Regions from separate parts of the Homo sapiens genome. Here regions 1, 2, 3 and 4 are each reported to be linked to region 5. Evidence: microRNA targets listed by miRTarBase, many of them from high-throughput screens and not tested one by one. Region 5 holds a microRNA gene; each other region holds the end of a gene's coding sequence.
Evidence for each region. The annotated mature microRNA hsa-miR-216a-3p reads UCACAGUGGUCUCUGGGAUUAU and lies in region 5 at 2,068-2,089, shown strand. An mRNA with a match to its seed (bases 2 to 7 or 8) in the 3' UTR can be bound and repressed. Matches are read on the target gene's strand: a 7mer-m8 pairs with bases 2 to 8, a 7mer-A1 pairs with bases 2 to 7 and ends in A, and an 8mer does both.

Region 1 (4,125 bases), not on the chromosome of region 5:
TAGGGCAGTAGTTTCCAGGTCTGGATGTGTATCAGTCACCTGGGGAGGTTTTAGAAATACATTCCAAGACCTCACTGCAGAGCTACTGAAGCAGAATCTCTAGTACATGAGGCCAAGGATTTTTATTTTTACTAATTAATTATTTTATTTTTATTTTTAAATTCTTCAGATGGTTCTCATATGCAGGGATTTCTTTAAAAGAATACTGAACCCAGGCCATGCTATTCTATTGTCAAGATTCTTGGGCATTGAATGAGTAATTAGAAGATTATGAGAGGTGAAGCCAGCTGGACTTTCTGGGTCGGGTGGGGACTTGGAGAACTTTTCGGTCTTACAAGAGTATTGTAAAATGCACCAATCGGTGCTCTGTGAAAACGCACCATCTGTGCTCTGCAGCTAGCTAGAGGTTTGTAAAATGGACCAATCAGCACTCTGTAAAATGGACCAATCAGCAGGACATGGGCAGGGACAAATAAGGGAATAAAAGCTGGCCACCCCCAAGCCAGCAGCCACAACCCCCTCAGGTCACTCTCCACGCTGTGGGAGCTTTATTCTTTCGCTCTTCACAATAAATCTTGCTGCTGCTCACTCCTTGGGTCCATGCCATCTTTAAGAGCTGTAACACAGTGAAGGTCCGTGGCCTCATTCTTGAAGGCAGTGAGACCACCAACCCACCAGAAGGAACCAACTCTGGACACAATTATCTAGTGAGTATGGAAGTGGAGAAAAGGGATTTAGATGTATGAGGCCGTGCAATGCAGGCTGTGGACAATCCCATTGACTAGTCCTCTGTAATGATGAGAATCTTCATTTCTAGTAGATATGGTAATCTAACCCCCTTTGTACACTGCTGGATAACATGGAACATGTTTTTTCCTCTCTGGTTTCTCTTTATCTGGGCTCCATAAAGACCAGTCCTTCCATTAACATTCTTTCTTCAGATAATCGGGTTACATGATGGGAAATTAGATTTTTTTTTTTTTCATTTCTGTTTTGAGTCTATAGTTCCCCATCCCATCAGCTTGCATGGTTCTCTAGTCTCTTCAGCACCACATTTACTAATTGTCTCTTAGGCTAGACACTTTGGAGATGGCTAAGTTCATTTGTGCTACATTTTTGCCCTTGGCCACCTCAATCTAATCTCCTGATATACTTGCTACATCTCAAATAGAGTTTTTGCTCAAGTAATCATCTGTTAACCCTTCAACTGTATTACACAGTACCTCTTCAGTTCAGATGAGATGTGTAAAATCATGGAATGTTGAGCTGGAAGAGAGTTTATAGACCATCTTGTCTAAGCTCAAAAAAGATAATAATTATAGGCAGTTAGTTGGGTACAGTTTTTTGTTAATTTGTTTTTGATGAGTACATCATGCTACCCCTGTACAATTCTTGCTTTGGGGTTTATAATCTATTACTGCAAACCCTAGCTATGAAGTAGCTGGACTTCATTCAGTAGGGTGAAGTCCATTCATGTGTCATACTGATAGGCACTGAATAACCACGGTCCAGCCAAATCTCTGTGAGACTTATCTTCCTCTTCTGTAAAATGAGGAGAATGAATATCTACTTTATAAACTGTAAGATGCTTTTTGTTTTGGTTTGGGAAGAACCTTGGACAGGAAGGAAAACAAAAATGTATCAGTCAATCTGAGAATTAGTTATTACACGGGCTCCAAGCCCAGAAGATACTAGCTAAACCTAAAAGGAATGATCTTGGAAATAAGGATTTCTAGTATATTAAATTATGAGTGCTATTCACTAGTCAAGCAATCATTGATTTTCTTAAAGCCCTAAGCAATACTATAAAACAGAAGATTGTATCTACTTTCAAGAGATTACAATGAAGTTACTCATTTAGTTGCACGTTAGGGCATTTGTGTTATTATTTATGGTAACTTCGAAAATGGGAGGTATTAAAGGACCTATGAAAATACTGTAAATCAGTTTTAAAAGTGTATAAACTGGCATATTTTTCAATTTGTTTGCAAGGCTGGCTTAATGATTGGCATGATAACAGTGGTTACTCTCATAAGGCATTAAATATATAGCTCTAAATGATTTTTACAAGTAAAAATAAAATTTTGTAGTCATTTAGTTTAGTTCAACAAATATTTATTGAGGATATAATGAGTAATCAAAGGTTGTCCCAGTACTCAAGGCGATGATTGTCAGGTAGCAGAAACAATTACAAGTCGATGGAAAATGCTGGGATCGAAGTGCACACAAAGAGCTATGGAAGCCCTGTAGGGACTGGGGAGTGAGGAGGGATGTCAAGAAGGCTGCTATCCAGAAGAAGCAATGTTTCGACTGAGGCTTGAAAGTTTCAATGTAATGTGGGAGGAAGAGCAAATGGAACAGTGTGTGAAAAGACATGGAGGCATGAGAACACATGGTGTTTTTAGAGACCAAGGTGGACCTCAGGATGAGCGTAAGGCAGTAAGAAATGAGATGGGAAGGAGTCAAATCATGACTGGCTTGCTTGTTTGATCATTTTCCTATGAGTGACCGTGTTGACGGATTCAAATTTAAGGAGTACAAGATCGTATTTTAAAAATGCCCTTAGCAGTATTTATAATTGAACAAGGATAGACAACAGCTGGGTAAGAAAGACTAGAGGCAGAATTCTCAGCCAGGGATCATGGAATGTGAATATCCTTTTGCTGACACAAGGAACAAATGTTGGCTCCAAACATTAGTTACTTTATACCAGTATTAGCTGTTCATTCAGTTTTTTAACTTCTTTAGAGCAATTTTATTTATCATCTATTTTTTCCCAATTACCCATTACATATAGAAATATTATCATGCCTGTCACCGATGAAACATATTAAGAAAAGTGAAAAATACATATTCTTTAAAGTGCCTCCCTTTTAAGGATTTTGTATCAACAAAGCACTGATTGTGGAATTCATGTATAGTCTTCAGAAGTCACAGTATATAAGCTCCGACTATCAATAGCAGCTTAACAGGCTCTATAAAATAAAGCATTACCAAGTATAGGTAAAATCATACATATTTGAAACTTATATCATTATTTTCCTACCAATGAGTGATTCATCATAATTTTCATTATGCCTTCAAAATTATCCCTGAGAGAGGCCAGAAACCCATTCTGCTGATGAAGAAACTGAGGTAAAGATTTCTCTTTGGTCTCAGTGTAAGAGCCTGGAATATGTCAGAGAGATTATTGCTTTTGACCTTATCAAGTTTCTTGATCCCTCCTTACACCCTTAAGTTTTAATGTTTCTCTTCTAAGTCTAAAAGTGAGGCGTATTTGAAATTTGTTCTGTGTATTGCAAGTATATTGCATGATACGCACAAAGTGCTCAAAGTGCGTGGTACCACAAGAAGCTAAAGCCAGGAGCTGTCTCTCTGACTGTTCAGTTTAGAAGAAAAGATAGGTAAAATTGGTTCTCAGTGAAGCACTGATTGTGGAATTCATTTATAGTCTTCAGAAGTCATGGTATATGATATGTGCATTCATAGATTTTTTTTGTTTGTTTAAATCACAGTCACCTGTCTGAAGCATCTTCACTGGATTCTTCTTGTATAAGAAGTTCATAGCTTCCCTCATTCCAGCTGGTACACTTGACAACACTATAAAAGGAAACAAGACATTTTAAAGTTGAGATTAAGACAATACATAAATAAGTAATCTGTTTTCCAACTTTTTTTCCCAGTTACATAGCTTTTAATAAATTATGCAGATTATTAGGAGGAGTATCCTGGCATTTTGAATCCAGCTGACTCATGCATGGTGTTCTTAAAATAATTTTAAAACTGCATGATTTTTTTTCTCTTCTAGACCCCTAAGGTATCCCATCTGTCCCATGGTTAACTCTGTGTAGTCCACATAAACTAGTTATAACTAAAGCTATTACTGAAGTTCCTGTTCAATAGCTATAGCTGAAGCTCAGAAGCTTGGACATTTGGAGGTAAGACAGTATGTAATTTTGATTTTTAAAATATTGAGCAGTGTAAGGTTAAAAAAAAAGCTCAGAAGCCCATCTACTTTACCTTATTATTAAAAGGACAACTGCCTTTTATCTATCTGTTATAACAGAATTTATAAACATGTGAAGACTAAAATTAGAATTACCTATTATTCTACTCACCATGTAT
Region 2 (4,125 bases), not on the chromosome of region 5:
TTTTAACTGCCTAAAAGTCAATGTGCCTGGTGGCTACCGTACCAGACGGCACAGGTTTTCGAGCATTTCCATCATCACAGAAAGCCCTATTGAACAGTGCCAATCTAGAAGATCTCACAGGTTATACCATCACATGGTTTAACCTTCAAGGGACCCAATCTGTAAGCCATGCAAAAAATTAAACTTAATTCTATTTTTAAAGAAAACATCTTAGAGCTTTCTGATCATTAAGTATGACTGGAACCAAAAACCAAGTTGCCTTTTCATCACAACTTATGCCCCAAGTCATTATACAAAATTTTTCCAAAGACAATGCTTCTTAGTAGCATTCTTGGCTCTACTTAACATATTAAGCATTCTCTTCCTTATTTCAAGATCATTAATAAAGATGAAAATTCATGCTTCTTATAGTTTACTATTTATACAACACTCACTGTCCTTTACATACAAGTGGGGTGGGAGGTTTGGACACCAATGTTTTACAATTTTAAAAATTCAAACCACATGGTTTGATAGTTGTCTTTCAACATCTATACTCATCCCTAAGTCAACCCTCCTTTCATTTTCCCAGAGAGGTAGATGCTAACTAAAATGAGTACATAAACCTACAAAAAAAATTCTTTAAAGCAATAGTTGACTCAGTAAAGGGTATTCATCAACCCTAGAAAGGATCATAGCCAGATAGAGATATAGACAGACCTAGGATGGAGCAAGAAGACACTGCAGTGCGAAGTTCATATCCCCCCCTTTCTGCAGAATTACAAAACGGACTCATCTACAAAATGAAGCCACCGGAGGCTGCTTTCAGCTCTTTCTGTGCTTTCCAGTTGTGACTTTTCATTAATGTGCAAGTATGAATCCTGGCCTCTTGTGTCAGTGGACTTTGGTCACATGGGTAGATGTGTTTGTTAAGGGTCATTGGTAAATGCCAGAAGAGGCCAGAGCAATGGGATGCCAAGCAACATTAAAACATCATTAAGCCTATAAAATTCTATCTGGGAGACTGAGATTCTCTCTCTCTCTCTCTCTCTCACACACACACACACACACACACACACACACACACACATACACAAGAATGCACACCCCAACAAACAGGTACACAAATAACTGCAAGCAGATCCATTTAAACAATTTAAACAATGTTTCTTAGGTCAGTAAGACTCACAAAAAAAATCTGATTTTGGTTGTTGTTGTTAAATTTAAGGTCAAGAATCTACCATACAGCCGATTAATTTTGCACTGCTTAATGGCAACTCTAGCATGGGATTGTTTTTAAGTAAAAGTTCTATGGACATTTTTACTCTACAGATTTGCACTAAGAAACACAGGACACTATCATCACACACATTAGTGTCTATATCTAACCTACTTTAACAAGTAGAACTCTATCACGTACTATACTACAGGGTCAGTCATTTCACACTGTACAGAAACATATGCAGATATCACTCACAAAATTAATCTGAATATGGCATAGCTTAAAATTGCAAGGGCAAAGTCTATTCGAAATGTAGCATTCTTAATGCAACACTTCTGTGGTGTGTGTGTGTGTGTATTTTCCTCCAAGAGAAATAGAAATTAGGTCAGACATGCATTATGGCAGCCTGGGAGAGTTTGAGAAATTGACACTAACCCAACAGTATATTATGTTATGTAATAGAGGATAGTATTCAGCTAATATGACACCTAAATTATTAATACCAAATAAATCCTAGATTATTTGTTGTATAATGCCCAAGAGCTTACACAATAAAATGGCATTTTAACCTAATTTCTATTTTGAGCTTTCAAATACATTTCCTAAAGGTTTTATGATCAATTTGAAAAATCAGAGCTCACAATTTTATGTTGAATTCTCATGCCAATTAGCAGTATTAGCTTTGTATTCTAGCCATTATATTTTTGTTTTATTTCACATTAATTCCATCACTTTTATATGCATATTTTGTGCTGCTTGAAGATAACAGACAGCATGTAAATAAATTAAATTGTCTTGACCTCACAGGGCTATTTTCTAGCCTTGCTTTTTGGAATTAGCCCTGCTTGTCTTTCCTTCACTTCCCCCCACCCTCCTCACCATTTTCAGGGATTCAGTGGAACATAAAAACAGTTATATTTATAAGTGGAGTCCTTGTCACATACCACTTGCTTCATGAATTCCATAAAAGAAGTTAGATGAGAGCTGTAAAGCTCACAGCTATTTCTGAATGCACATGCACCCAGGGATAGGAATTTATCACGTACTTGTAGCAGATCTTTCTTCATGAGCATCTATAGATCATTACACATTTAAGAACATTTGACAGTTTATGAGGAACTGGTCCACTTATATTGGGAATTTGAGCTGTTAGTTTACCTTGCCACCTTTCTTGGTAAAAACGTGTTAAAATACAGGAGATCTTCTCTCATATCAACAAGAGGAAACAGGAATTCTAACTGGCTTAACTCTTGTGGAAGAGCATCTTTCAAAAAAGAATCACAGGCCATTTATTAAAATGCCCGCCTGGGTTGACCATCAGTCACAACACTCATGGCCAGTGCAAGACTCCAAAACCAGGAGAAAAGACACTCTTCTGTTACTCTCCATTTGCCTCTTACAAAATGCAGGACTTAAATACACAGAAGAGGAGCGAGTGTTGCAGGTGACGTGTAGGAGACCACTCGCTGGGTCAAGATGTCCAAGAAGTGGCCACCGCTTCAGAGACTTGACTCATTCATGCCCAATGAAGTCTTCATCCCAGGATTCTTCAGCAAAGACTCAAACACCTGAGGTAAATCAAATTAGACACACACACATACACACACAAATACACAATATTTACATTTGAAATTCTTATTTTGTGAGATGGCTTGAGGAAAATCGGCATACAGGTTTTCCCATGGGATTAGACATTTCTCATGATTTCTCGGTTTATTGCTCCCCTGTTGAGCTTTCAGTTCCATAAACACGTAGCAAGCTCTAATTACAAGTGAAGAAAATGAAGGTTCATGACAAAACACAACACATTGGAGACACTTGTTCAAATATTTCCTCCAAATAAAATGACTGTCCATTTTGACTTATTTTGTTTTGGTGCCATTCAAAATGTATTAAAAGCCTTAGCAACTAAATGAAGACTGGGTTTCAATAAAAAGAAAAAAAAAATAAAGAAGCCAGCAGTGCATGTCTTCACTGAATTTTTACACGGATTCGCAGGTTTAATTCTACTTGTCTACAGAGCATCTTTGTTTGAATCTACCGCATTTAGAGAAGGTCACATTGTACGCACTTGTACAGTTTAACGTCTAAGTAGAATATGTCTATCTTGTAACATGATTTTGAAAAATCATAAATTACAGTCCATTGAATACATGATTATGAGGATGCATGCAATCATCTTCCAAGCTGTTGCCATCAACACTCAGAACAATTCACCTGGTATCTTGTTGAGACCGCACCTTCTGCCCTTTGTGTCTGTCTTGGGGTAATCAAGAGGCAACCCAGAGGCCAGCGCTCAGCACCAAATGGTCAGTGTTGCCCCCCATCTTCTCACTGGGATCTCATCATCAACCTGCTCAACCCCTAAGTTGGCACCCACAAGAGACTTCCCTGCAGCCCTCTTCAGCCACAGGATATCACAGTGAAGCGCTTAGAAATGCAAGACATGTTGTGAAGCACGATGCCGAGGAGGAAGACCAAGACGCAAGCCACCAAGATGACAGTGCACACCCCCGACCAGGTGGAGCTTTTCACCACGCCCCGCCTGTCCTGCTCCTCCTCCACCGCCTCCTGGGGAGCCCCACCTTGCAGAGGCTGCTGTTCAGCAGGGATGGTCACCACGGTGACGGACTTCTGCTGGCTCCCGGGCAGCAGGCGGCAGCCCATGTCTCCGGGCAGCAGCGCACGCTCCTTGGAGATGGGCAGGGGCAGCATGTAGCACCCATTGCTGGGAAGTTTGATGAAGACCGGGGTGTGTTCGGAAGTGTGTGGAATGGCGATGACAGCCAGGACCTCCGGGTCGTCCGGGAGCTGCGACACGGAGAAGCCGGGAGGCAGCTTGGTGACACCGCGGCACCAGGGGCACCGCACATCCTTCTGGCTGGTCCTCATCTGCTGCAGGCACACTGAACAGCAGGTGTGCT
Region 3 (4,125 bases), not on the chromosome of region 5:
GAAATGTAACGGGTAGTAAGTGTTCAAACATTTATAGTTATTTTTCCTGTTCCCTGGAAGTTGTCTTACAAACCACTCTGAGAAATTCTGCTTTAGAAAACTGTAAAGAAAGTAGCTTGTTTTGGAATACCCCTTTCAGAAGTCCATATGTACAAAATATCCACAAATATACAATATATGAGGAACTAATTATATCTTCTATATGTATTGTCTTCTGAATAACGTTTTGCCTGCTTTTTTCCTTCTAGGTGTCTGTCATGTGTGCAATGAGTGAAGAATATGCTGTAGCCATAAAACCCTGCAAATAAACGGAAACATCAGGCATGAACACTGTTTATGTCTGAATCAACTGCAGATCTAATTTGGTTCTAAGTTGTCACCAAAGCTATAGCCTTCATAAGCAACCTCATTTCTTTTTTTAATTGTTTTCAGATTGTGCTGGGTTAGTTTTGCAAGCAATTGATAATTTTTAAAAAATTATCAATATGTATAATTTTTTTTGAATTTTGTAGATATGTTTCCTATAATATTCCTGTGGTTTTCAGTATGTCAGTCCAAGAAACAAACAAGATAGCTTCAGCAGATGTGATTTGTCTGAGCAAATCATTCCTGTGTTTTAGTTAGATGATAAACCAGGGTTTTAAATCAAACAATGTAGCATAAAGTGGTATTGAAGTACCATATTTAAGTTGAACTGCTCTGCATTAATTACAGATTTAATATAAAATGAACTGATTATATATTGGAATTGTTGCACTTTCAGCCTGTGTAGGGCAAACACAAATCCTTAAACAAAAATCATGTTATCAAAAACTGTCAGTTATTTTGGTGGCCACATGCAACCATGTGATTACTTTGGTCATACTATTTACCAAATTGTTGGCAAACTTGATGTAACCTTATATGGTGGTTTTAGTCCCTTCTTATGGTTGGCAGAAGGGCACTGAACTGTTGGGTGAAAGTTAGTTAGCAAGTAAGATTATAAGGAAGACACAAAAGACAGTGGCAAAGAGGGTTGATTAAATCTATAAGTTTTTATGTGAGGACTTTGTAAGTCAGCATAAAAATGAAAAGTTGTTTCTCAGTTGTTTTTGCTTTTAACTTTGCCCCCAACGTTTAAAGGGAGTGATCTGCTTTACATGATACTATGCAATGCTTGTTTTCCAACTATGTTGAATAAATAGTAATATTTATCAGTAAATACTCCTTTCCAACTTCCTTTTTTTTTTTTTTTTTTTTGAGACTGAGTCTCACTCCATCAGCCAGGCTGGAGTGCAGTGGTGCAATCTCGGCTCACTGCAACCTCTGCCTCCCGAGTTCAAGCAATTCTCCTGCCTCAGCCTCCCAAGTAGCTGGGACTACAGGTGCATGCCACCACGCCCAGCTACTTTTTTGTGTATTTTAGTAGAGATGGGGTTTCACCATGTTGTCTAGGCTGGTCTTGAACTCCTGACCTCAGGTGATCCACCTGCCTCAGCCTCCCAAAGTGCTGGGATTACAGGCATGAGCCACCACACCCAGCCCCTTTCCAACCATTTCTAAGTAGATTTTTTGACATTAATGTATTTATTAAACAAAAACTGAGAATTCCTTAAATTGATTTGGAATTTTTGTTAATTTTATGTCCTTTTTTTCCTAAAGTGAATTAAAGTGAATCATGGAAGCAGCATTACTTTATATGAATATTATTATTTAAGTTAAGTTATTTTAAGTATATGCATTTTTTCTGATTGTTGTGTGACTTAATTCAGTTGCTGGTGTGAACTATAACTAGCAAATAATTCTATAAACTGAATTATTTTAAAAGGTATTTTAGGTGACACCACTGCATTTCTATTTCATCTTTTGAGTCATATGTATATTATTTCCAGAATTTTAGACATTATTACAGGGTTTGTGAGGACCTTTGACTCAGTGACAATCATCATATTGGAGCAAAACATAGAACAAAATCACTATCTCAGAAATACCTTAATTCTCTAAGACTGGCTCTTAGACCTCTCCCATCATGCCTTGACCTCTAAAAAGCCCTTTGTTCCTATCTTCTAAAGGAAAGTATATCATATATGATGATGTAACTGATCTAATCAGTGACTGGAAATAGCATTAGTAACAGAAGATCCCAAGTTTTAGTTGCTTAATTTGTACACACTTTTAAATATTGTCTTAGCCTCGGCAAACCAATTTGGGGAAGAAGCAAGATACTTTAAGAGAAATACAAAGGAAATTTCTAAAGCACAAGAAATAGTGAGGTAGTAGTTAGTCGTCTTTCCTACAACATTTTAGCTTTTGCCCATCTAAAGCACAATTAAAATTAGGCTACATTCTTTCCAGTATTCTATTTAAGTACCTACTACATACTGCTCTAGTTTCTTAGTACTCTGTAATGTGTATCTTAATTGCTACTGGTTGGCATTGTAACTCATAGGAATTCCAGAAAATTATTAATCCGTGCTGCTTGCAGTTCATTCATATGGCCCCTCTTAACCATGCTGGTGTTATGATTCAGTATTAACTCTCAATTAGCATGCCCCTGTTCTTCCTAACTTGTAAAATTTCACATAAATATATTTTCAATTGTGTACAAATTAAGGGTGTACAAATTATAATAATGCATCTCTATCTTCATACTTTGAATGGCAAACGCTATTTATGCATAAATATTTTCATTTTAAGTAATATATGAAGTGTAAATACTCGATATATAAGTATAGATTTTAAAGATATGGGACTTTATTTTCACATAAGTCAATAGATGTTTCTCTAGAACAAAATATTTAGTAAAGCTTTATAAATTATATTAAAAGGAAGCGGGGAACATGTATTTTTTAACATAGAACAGAAGTGACTTCATTCTTTTTAGACATCAGAAATGTTAAAGTTGATTCCCAATATTTGTTGTACTTTTTTGTAGCAAATGTTAAAAATCACGAGTTACCATGTATAGAATGTGGACTGTCATGTTGATATCATTGTACAGTGATAAGCCATTTTTATCTGTATACATTTCACCAATTTATTAACAGGTTGAATATTTGTTTCTTTTTAGAACATTTTATTTATACTGTGAAGACTTTGTTATACCTTATTTGCTACAACATAGATCATATCATTGCTACTTTGACTTAGCATTTGCATCATAAACATAATTATGATGTTTTTTTCATGCTCCCTTCCAGGGGCTCAGTCACTTGAAGAAACTGTTGCTAACCAAGCTCTTGACTCTGTTTCCCTTAATGATACAAGTCTCTGTACCAGCGCTTTATGTTAATTACCAAAACTCTCCTGCATCAGAGCATGATATCTATAATAGGAGATACTGCAATAAAATGATTAGGCTGTAAAATTTGGAGACACAATTTTTCATTACAATGCAATTTGCATGTGCACATGTGCGCACATAACTTTATATGTTAGTTCTTTTTTCCAAACTCCCAACTCTTAAAAGTATTGTAGTCTGTTGGTGCCTCAACTGTTGGTAACTTTTTTTTTTTAAATTTACAACTTTCCACAACTTGTTTTTGTACTTTAAGGTTTCTCAATTAGAATATTTCTAGTTGAGCTGTAATTTGAATGCATTGTTCTCAGGGCTATTTGTGCTAAAAGCTGAAATTTCATTATTTTAAAGCTAATTGCCTGAAAATATATTGGCAGAATTTTCCCAAATTGTAATAACTGTGATACATGCATATAAAAAAATCCTTAATGTCAACACACTTAAACTACATGCTAAATAGTCAAGAAAAAAATGGAAACAGTAGCATCCATACTGGAATCTTGCCATATTTTTTTCATTTTAGAATAGATTTTGGCAGTCTCATCTTAGAATCCTATCCTTAGGATACATCTGAAAGCATTCCTTTGGCATGGACCCCAGAGATAGTTTTGGAGCCAGGCATTGATGTAGAGGTTCACCAAACATATTTAGGGATAATAGATAAATTCATAATGCTTTTTTGGGTACACTGAAATGTTTACATACTGAATTCTGTAATATGAACTAGGAACGCATTTACTATGAGAAAATATGGCTCTTAAGCAGTGTAAGAGTGAAAATATAAGCATATTTCCATTAACAGTATATTGTACTGATCAGCAGCTCTCATTTTAACATCAGTTAGGCAT
Region 4 (4,125 bases), not on the chromosome of region 5:
TGGACCAGCAGAGAAAAGACCTAATAAGGAAAAAAAGAGAGATCAGTATTATTTGTAACTAAAGTGCCAGTCCTTCTGCTAGACGCTTTTCATGTAACTACATTTAATCTGCACAATAACTGTATGAAGTAAACAGGATTATCACATACTTACAGCTGAGGAAGCAAAGTCTGAAAGCCAGAAAGTCTGACTAATTTATCTAAGATCACACCACAGCCAGGTAGTAGAACTGGGGTCAGATCAGTAGTGTCTGCCTGGTTTTGAAGCCTGATTTGATTTCTCCATTATAAAATACATTGCTGCTGGTCTCAACTAGTTTTTCTGTTACATGTTTTAAACACAATGGATGTTTCTTTGTATCTTCTTCACCAGGCTTTTCTGATGTGGATCACACCTATGCTCAAAGAACTCAGCTCTTTGACACCTTAGTAAATTTCTTTCCTGACAGCATGACTCCTCCTAAAGGCAACCTGGTAGACCTCATCACACTGTAACTGAAGAGTCACTGGACACAGAAATGGAAAACAGGAGTCGATTTTCCGTCTTTTGGATTGCAGCTCCACTGACTGACAGTAAAGCTGCAGTGATTGAGGACTGCACCAGAGTTCTGAAGGGATCTTAACCATCACAAGTTTTTACCCTCTTCCTTCATGCCTGACCTCAACCCCGCTCTCCTCATCCTATTCCTAAATTAGGCTAATAAAGTGAAATTGGTATACTTTCCAGTTAAATATATATATATATATATTTTTTCTTACTTTATCTTTTAAGAATTAATGAGTATAAAAGAAAAATTAGGCAGTTTACCCTTTTCAGATTTTTATTTCTTTTTTTTTTAATTGGGGGAAATAAGCACTATTAACAGATTCAGCACTACAAGTATTTTGAATGTTGTTGCTGTTGGTCATTTGGCCTGCCTTTTCCCTTCCTATTTCACTTTGCCTCCCATCACACAACTGCGTGTAAATGGTGTCACTTGTTCACCTCTTTACTTCATTCTTAACAAGTGTATAGTTCTCTAGGACAGTTGATGTATGTTAAGGTGATATCTGTGTCTGTATTGACTTGTCTTGTGTTACATTAAACAGTAGGCAGAACTGAGGTCTCAAGTTTGCACTCTTGGCCATAGAACTAAAAATGAAACCTGAGATTGACCCAAGCACCTATCTGAGATTGGTATATAATATTTCTATAATGATATATTTTATAGTAGATATTACAATAGCATCTGACTTTGAGTCACAGAAACCTTAAACTGAGGAGACAATAGTTCAGAACCTTTTTAAGAGCCATTCTAAAAGTGACCAGCAGGAGGGATCTAGTAGTGAATAATATCTTAATAGCAATTTTAGGAGAAAATGACTCTTTCGTCCAGAAGAGCTCTGCAGAACCAGGGCTCCCGTTTATCTTGTGCTATCTCTGTAGTATTTTCATTTGAGAGAGGAGGCTGAGTTTCCAGAGCTTTGCTTTCATTTATTTTTATACACATTGTCTCTCTATATCTGCTTGTGGATATTGTTATTTTGAAGAGAAATGGTTTGTGGTTGTCCAGTGGTATACAACTGACAGGCATTTCATTAAGCACATAGACCAGACTTTGTGAATGGTTCAGATATTTTTTCATTAAAAAACAAGGTATGGCAGATGGACTTTTCCATGGGTCAAATTTTTTGTGTGAGAGATAGAGGTACATGTCTTCTGATGATGTGCTGTGGAATGCAATGTGGGAAACCTACATCTGGCTAGTGCTTACATTTGCTCAAAAAGCATGTTGTATGAAGCTGACTGCCACCATGCTAAAGCAGATTCATATTAAGAAGTGTCGGTCGATCCAGTGGCTCTTAAGAGTGAATAGCTTTATGGAATCAAGTATGTCCCTGAGTAGCAAGATTAGGCCTCACCAAAGAAGAAATTAACCTGCACTTTCAAAAAGTACCATGTATAGGAATGAAACATTGAGGTCCCACTTTATTCTGTCTTTAGTACATGGTTTTACTTATTTTGGGGATGGATAGAAATATATTTTTGCTAGTTCTAGGCTTGAATCATGGGCTCCTTGGCTTTCCTAGCATCCCAAAGCAGTCAACAGTGATTTCTTAAGCAATTTGATCTGTACCTTTACTTGTGAAAGGTATGCTATATAATTCAGCAAGTACCAACTTGTGTAGCTGCAGAATAACCAAGTGGCTATCCAGTCAAGTAAATACAGTTTGCTTACATACTTCAACAGTTTCATAAAACGATTCCCCTGAGTGACACAAGAACATAAAATGTTAATATCACTAATATAGCCTGTTAAATCTTTTGTGGAGACAGGTGCAAATCAGAAGATTGACAAGGAAGAACTTGAGCTTGCTAAATAAGACTTCCTAAATTTAAAAGCTCTAGTTTTGCTTAGTGTGAATTCTGGCACTTTAAAAAGATTAAGCAAGTGAAATTCTGCTGCCCTCCACCATTTATTTTTACAGTGCTTTGTAATTTTTTTCATCAGTTCCTTAAATGTTATTTGGAGGAAACTAAGTTCTTGACCTCAGTAATTTTATTTTTGTTTTTCCCTAAATGTTTCCCTACTAGTCTTTTTGGAAAACATGTTTGTTTTAATTTCATCTTCCCTCACTTTATTTAGGTAGAATTTTTCCCCCTTCATTTCTGAAATTTTTTGCTCACCGCCATGTTTAAATGGGGTTGAATCATAGCGAGCCATTTGCTCTTGCCAAAGTGAGATAGATGTACTGAGGAGATAATTGAAAAGTCAGACTCTGTACTGTGGGGCTTTAATCGGAGCACTGCTGGAAATGATTGCAGAGAATGTAGTGCTTCATATATCCATGACCAAGATTGACATGTTGCTCACAACATGTCACAATTTAGTGAGGAGCTACATGTATTTCCAAGAATTCCAGCATAGATTATAATTTAAATAATCGAATTTGGTATTTAGGTACATTGTTTATATAGCCAAGTGTATATGCTTTACTACCTAACAATTATTCTAGCCTAGGTGAATCCCTAATTGAAACACCTGGCTAACACTTTAGACACATAAATTAAGTGGGATACAGTTTTCTCATTTGTATTATCTCCAGCTTCAACCTCATTTATCCTTTTTCCTAGTATAATACATTGTTTTCAACCAGAAATTAAAGTAGATATCCAACATTATTTTCAGTGCTTGTACTTCATGAGAAATAATCTGATTTTCAAGACACCTCTTAAGTGCATTTGCATTTTATTTTGGTAATGGCAGAGACCTCATGTGGCCAGTTTGATTGATTGAAGAATGTATCACTCTTATTCAAGCAAAGGAATTCAGACTTAAATGCCTACCTCTGTGCTGAAGCTGACAGACAGTATTAACTCTTATCAAGGCCATCTTTTAGACCTGATTTTCATTTATATGAAAACAGACCTGTCCATGTCTAATAAGTAAAAACTGATAGAATACATTAAAAAGTCACTGGTTTATCATAGAAAAGTTTGATGGGTTTAGAGCTCAGTGATTTAAGCTTGTAAAACTGCATTCTTGGGCAAAATATTTATATTGTATATAAATGGTTGGCAGCTTATTCCAGTTGATCTCTTCACATCTGCCTTAAAAGTGCTATGTAGAGATACATTAACAGAGTTATAATAAAACAGTGTTTTAAAATCTAGCCTATAAACAAAAACTAGTTTGAGGCACCCAAGCATTTAGTGAGAGATTGAGAATGATGCTTAATGGATCAAAAAAGCAATTAGGAGTATGTTCCTGATTTTATTCTCTAAATTATACTCAATTTCATGGTAATTACATGAAGAAGTTACCTGCAATTATTCTTAACACTACATGGAATTCACTGGGTAATTGTGGGTCATTTATTTCCTGAAAGTCACGTGAAATCCTTAGCTGGTTGAATGTTGCACAGTATTTGAGAATTACGGTTTGAAGTGATTTCTGTGGGAGGGAATCATTGCAATGTATATTCTAAATAAAGTCATCTAACTATTAAAAAAAAAACACCCTTCCTAACCCTTCTTTTCTTAAAATTCCACATTCATCCACAATCTCATCCCTTTGTAGAAATTCTTGCCTGAATTCTCACCAAGTTTTGAATTCCTAAGGTAGCCCCGATCTAGGATGTGAAG
Region 5 (4,125 bases):
TGAACAGAATGTATAGATAGTGTTAGAAACAGCTTACTCCTTGATACTTTGCTACTGTATTTCAGTTTATCTGGCCTGTGGACTATCTATCCACATTAATATAGCTTTGTTGCCAAAACAACTTTGTATCAGTTTCTTCCTTTTTCTTTTTTAAATGCCCATCACAGCAACCCACTAAGGTAGGCAAGGCAGAAACGTATATGTCTTTGCTTCCATTGAGAGCCCACCTCCCTGTGCAGTTGTGGACATGACAACTTAAGATTAATAAAAAGCTGTCTCATCTTCCACATCAGCATATGATGTTCCCATTTATGATCTTTTCTTAATGTTTTCTAGCAGAGGGAAGAAGAACTACATACTCCTGTCACTTCTCTATGGTAACTTTTCACTATTAAACTTTCTAGAGAGAAAGGAAAATCAAATATAAGATTAAGAGAAAAGAAAAAACTGAACGTCATTCATGTTGCTCTGAGAAGCCCTTGTTTTTTGATTAAGATAAAATCTGCTTATTTTTAATCCTGAGCAATTTGACTCCAGAAAATAAACTTAGAACAATATTTAAAAAGTTAAATCCTAATGATGAGACATTCTTATTTTACAAAAGTAGCTTTGTACTTAGGAGTCCATATGAGGCACAAGATTATATTCAATTGTTCTTTCTCAATTGTTTTGTAACTTTATATTTACCTGACTTTTAAAACGAAAAGCCACTTTTCTAACTCTGTAAATTACCACTCTCTTAATTGTGTCAAGTCTCAATTATTAAAGGACAAGTTATGAGCTGAAATCCATAATTCTTTGCTTCAACAAACATTTGATTTAGTTTGACAAAATTTTTTTGAGCACTTATTAAACATCAGATGCTAAACTGAGAATAGTATAGTTGAGGATATAGAGATGAATAAGCACAGTGCCAACACTTGGAAGTTTGCAGTCAATGAAGGAGAAAGCATGTGAGTGAGAAAACACCATTGTGTATTACAGGTGCCAAAAAAGGGAGACTGGGGAGAGAAGGCAGTGTGTGATAGTTTTCAATGTGTGACTGTCACACAAGGGGGTGTGTGTGTGTGTGTGTGTGTGTGTGTGTGTGAAAGAGAGAGAGAGGAGGGAGAGAGAAAGAAGAAATAATTCCAAGTATGGGCAAACACAGCTCATTGGATTCTCAGAACTTGTTAGAGCTGGAGTCTACAATGTAGAGGAAGAAATGGTCTAGTATGAAGTGAAGCTGGAGAAAGGCAGTGGAAAATCTCCACCGAAGTGCAAATCGCAGCCACCAAAACCAGACCTACTGAATCAAAATATAGAGGTAGGTCCTGGGGATCTACATTTGTAACAAGTTTCCTATGTGCTTCTTACACTCACTCAAGTTGAGATGCCATCCACGGCAGATGGTGGGGAAACTCTGAGGGCGTTTCCTCTTCCTTCCGTTCTTAATCATTATTCTTACCATTGATTAGCCCCACCCAGTGGACTGAGGGGCTTAGATCATGGCTCAGTCTCACTTAGCCATGACAGTGATGTGGGCAAGAGGGGAGGACATACCACCATCTATGAAAGGTAATAGCCACCGCTATTGACACATCTGGCCATTTGGTGAGTATACGGTCATTACTTTTTCAACGTAATTGCTGGTTTTCTTGTCTGAGGACAAATTTTAGAGTGTTTGGCTTTGATGTTTCCAAGTTCTCTATAAAGCTTGTTTAAAAAATCATTTTTAGTGATTGGTTTTACATTCACCTGTACTCCTACTTGGCTGTTTCTTACTATATATGGATTAGAGTAAATCCTTTCTAAATGCAAAGATTATACTTTTATGACATTACATGCAATATAGCATATGCCAGAAATCTGTGAATTCAGCAAGAGGAGTAGCTTGATAATGTCGCCTCAAGAAAAATGCAGAGGGGTACATCAGGGCTTCTGCTGGTGCACTCGATGTATGAAGATGTGCTTCCACCTGAGGCAGCCACGTGCCTCTGCTCATACACTTTCTCTTGCAGGTCTAACACGGATGGCTGTGAGTTGGCTTAATCTCAGCTGGCAACTGTGAGATGTTCATACAATCCCTCACAGTGGTCTCTGGGATTATGCTAAACAGAGCAATTTCCTAGCCCTCACGAATCAAAAGACTTGCATGGCAACCAAAATTAAACACCAAATTTCTATTTCATGACCAAGACGGGGGGAAAAGTTTCGATGGTTACTGTTTCATGCTCAACCTCTTTTAATCTTAGTAAAGTCTTTTTCTAAAGTGCTGTTGTGCTGGAAAGGAAACCAGCCTTGGGAATTAATTTGCCTTTATTGGATTCGCTTGCTACTTACTGCGCTCCTTCAGTGCTACTTGGTTTTTTAAAAAATTGCAGCCAAGGGAGTTTGGGTGTTAGAAGCTGAACCCAAAATATTTTCCCTCTGAAAGCTCCTCCCACTCTCTTTGTGGGTGCTACTCCATCAAATTCCAAACAGTCTAAAAGAGGACGATCTCCTGCCAGGCCCTCCTCAAACTTCAACTCCCCAGATTATCACATTTAATCGCCCTTCCTCATTCCTTCTGTAAGTGTTTCACATTCATCTGCCCTAAATAATATTGAAATTTAGAATCAACTATGGCTTAGGCTGAGGTTGCCATGAAACTTTTGAGCTGTACCCAACTCTAATTCTCGGTGATCCCTGGAAACAGATAATCCTTTTCCATAAAAAGAATAAGAACAAATGTAATTCTTCAGGGTGAAAAATCAAGGCCAGTTATCTTCCTCATTCACCCAGTAACACAAAACAAATCAGATGAACCAAATTTATAATTAAATGTGGGATAACTTTAACAACAAAAATTATTAAAATGCTATTTCCAAGGTCTTGACTGGCACATATCCCCTCAGGTATCCTCAGAAAGAGAAGTCTGTATATCTCAGTTTGATTAAATTACATTTCTGGGCCGGGCGCAGTGGCTTACGCCTGTAATCCCAGCACTTTGGGAGGCTGAGGCAGGCGGATCATGAGGTCAGGGGATCGAGACCATCGTGGCTAACACGGTGAAACCCTGTCTCTACTAAAAATACAAAAAATTAGCTGGGCATGGTGGCGGGCACCTGTAGTCCCAGCTACTCAGGAGGCTAAGGCAGGAGAATGGAGTGAACTCAGGAGGCGGAGGTTGCAGTGAGCCAAGATTGCGCCACTGCACTCCAACCTGGGCGACAGAGCGAGACTCTGTCTCAAAAAAAAAAAAAAAAAAAATTACATTTCTGTATCAAGGCACATTAGTATGACCTATTAGATTTCCTTGCCAGAAATTGATGTTGAGCAGTAGGAGGTAAGTTTGAGAACTAGTTATTCACATACTAATAGCACAAATACTGAACCATAAGCCAGGAAATAACTTACCTCTGGTAAGGAGAGGGCTTCGTATTAATTTTCAGGACTCATTAAGGGCTCTTTTAAGCTGCTGCTGAAACTTTCTAAATGTTGTCTGTATCCTCCTGCTAGTTGAAATAATCATTTTTTCAAACATGAAAAAATTCCCAATTCCAATTTTTGGTGACCATTTTTCAAAAAGGGAAGAAGATAAATGTAATTAAACAGAGCAGGAAATATTTTTTGAAGAGCTGAGTACATATGATGCATCAGGAACCATGCTTGTTGCCTTGCTTGTGTGTACACTCAGTGCACTCTTGCAGTCTCCAGATGTTCCCAGTGCTCTCTGCACATAGAGGCACAGGGAGCTTTTGAAAATGTCAATATCAAGGGCTGTGCCACTGATAAATCAGAATGCCTGGGATGGGATCTGGGCATCTCTGTTTAAGAGGCACCCAGGGGATTGTAATGTGCAGCCAAAGGTGAGAATCACTGTATTTGAGCTCAACAGGGAAGCTGTGGTTGGAGTGCAGTGAGAAAAACTGGAAGGAGAGGATTAGAGGGTATAGCTAGGTAGACTATGGTAAGAATTTGGGGTTTTAGTGTGAGGGACTCCACAAGCAATTGGAGAGTTTTAATTAAAGAAGTGGCATGACTTATTTACCAGTAACACAGTTTAATAGACTTTTCTTAGAATCTAACCATGTATAAACTTTAAAGAAAAATAGTTATTGTGGACTGCAAATAACTTCCTTGTCATTTAACTTTAGGAATGTA

Region 1: miRTarBase lists SLC46A3 as a target of hsa-miR-216a-3p. Seed matches in the 3' UTR shown: 7mer-A1 at 2,932-2,938.
Region 2: miRTarBase lists RNF152 as a target of hsa-miR-216a-3p. The part of its 3' UTR that is shown has no 7-base or 8-base seed match.
Region 3: miRTarBase lists EIF5A2 as a target of hsa-miR-216a-3p. Seed matches in the 3' UTR shown: 7mer-A1 at 3,064-3,070 and 7mer-A1 at 3,675-3,681.
Region 4: the mRNA of MKLN1 is a reported target of hsa-miR-216a-3p. The part of its 3' UTR that is shown has no 7-base or 8-base seed match.

What each region holds. Positions count from the first base shown.
Region 1 is chr13:28,697,982-28,702,106 of GRCh38, forward strand. It overlaps SLC46A3 (solute carrier family 46 member 3), which reads right to left. Exons shown (of 6, transcript NM_181785.4): 6 at 2,099-3,600. The coding sequence ends at 3,516. The region is part of intron 1 of LOC124903143 (a long non-coding RNA gene); the gene reads left to right. Among named protein-coding and RNA genes, the nearest start is that of SLC46A3, 19 kb to the right of the region's middle.
Region 2 is chr18:61,812,248-61,816,372 of GRCh38, forward strand. It overlaps RNF152 (ring finger protein 152), which reads right to left. Exons shown (of 2, transcript NM_173557.3): 2 at 1-4,125. The coding sequence ends at 3,605. Among named protein-coding and RNA genes, the nearest start is that of LINC01544, 66 kb to the left of the region's middle. RefSeq lists an enhancer at 3,980-4,125.
Region 3 is chr3:170,889,543-170,893,667 of GRCh38, reverse strand. It overlaps EIF5A2 (eukaryotic translation initiation factor 5A2), which reads left to right. Exons shown (of 5, transcript NM_020390.6): 5 at 249-4,125. The coding sequence ends at 308. Among named protein-coding and RNA genes, the nearest start is that of EIF5A2, 17 kb to the left of the region's middle.
Region 4 is chr7:131,487,235-131,491,359 of GRCh38, forward strand. MKLN1 (muskelin 1) reads left to right here. Exons shown (of 18, transcript NM_013255.5): 18 at 373-4,125. The coding sequence ends at 494. Among named protein-coding and RNA genes, the nearest start is that of PODXL, 67 kb to the right of the region's middle.
Region 5 is chr2:55,986,945-55,991,069 of GRCh38, reverse strand. It overlaps MIR216A (microRNA 216a), which reads left to right and starts at 2,011; the gene lies at 2,011-2,120. The region is part of intron 2 of MIR217HG (MIR217 host gene); the gene reads left to right. The region is part of intron 3 of LOC105374690 (a long non-coding RNA gene); the gene reads right to left.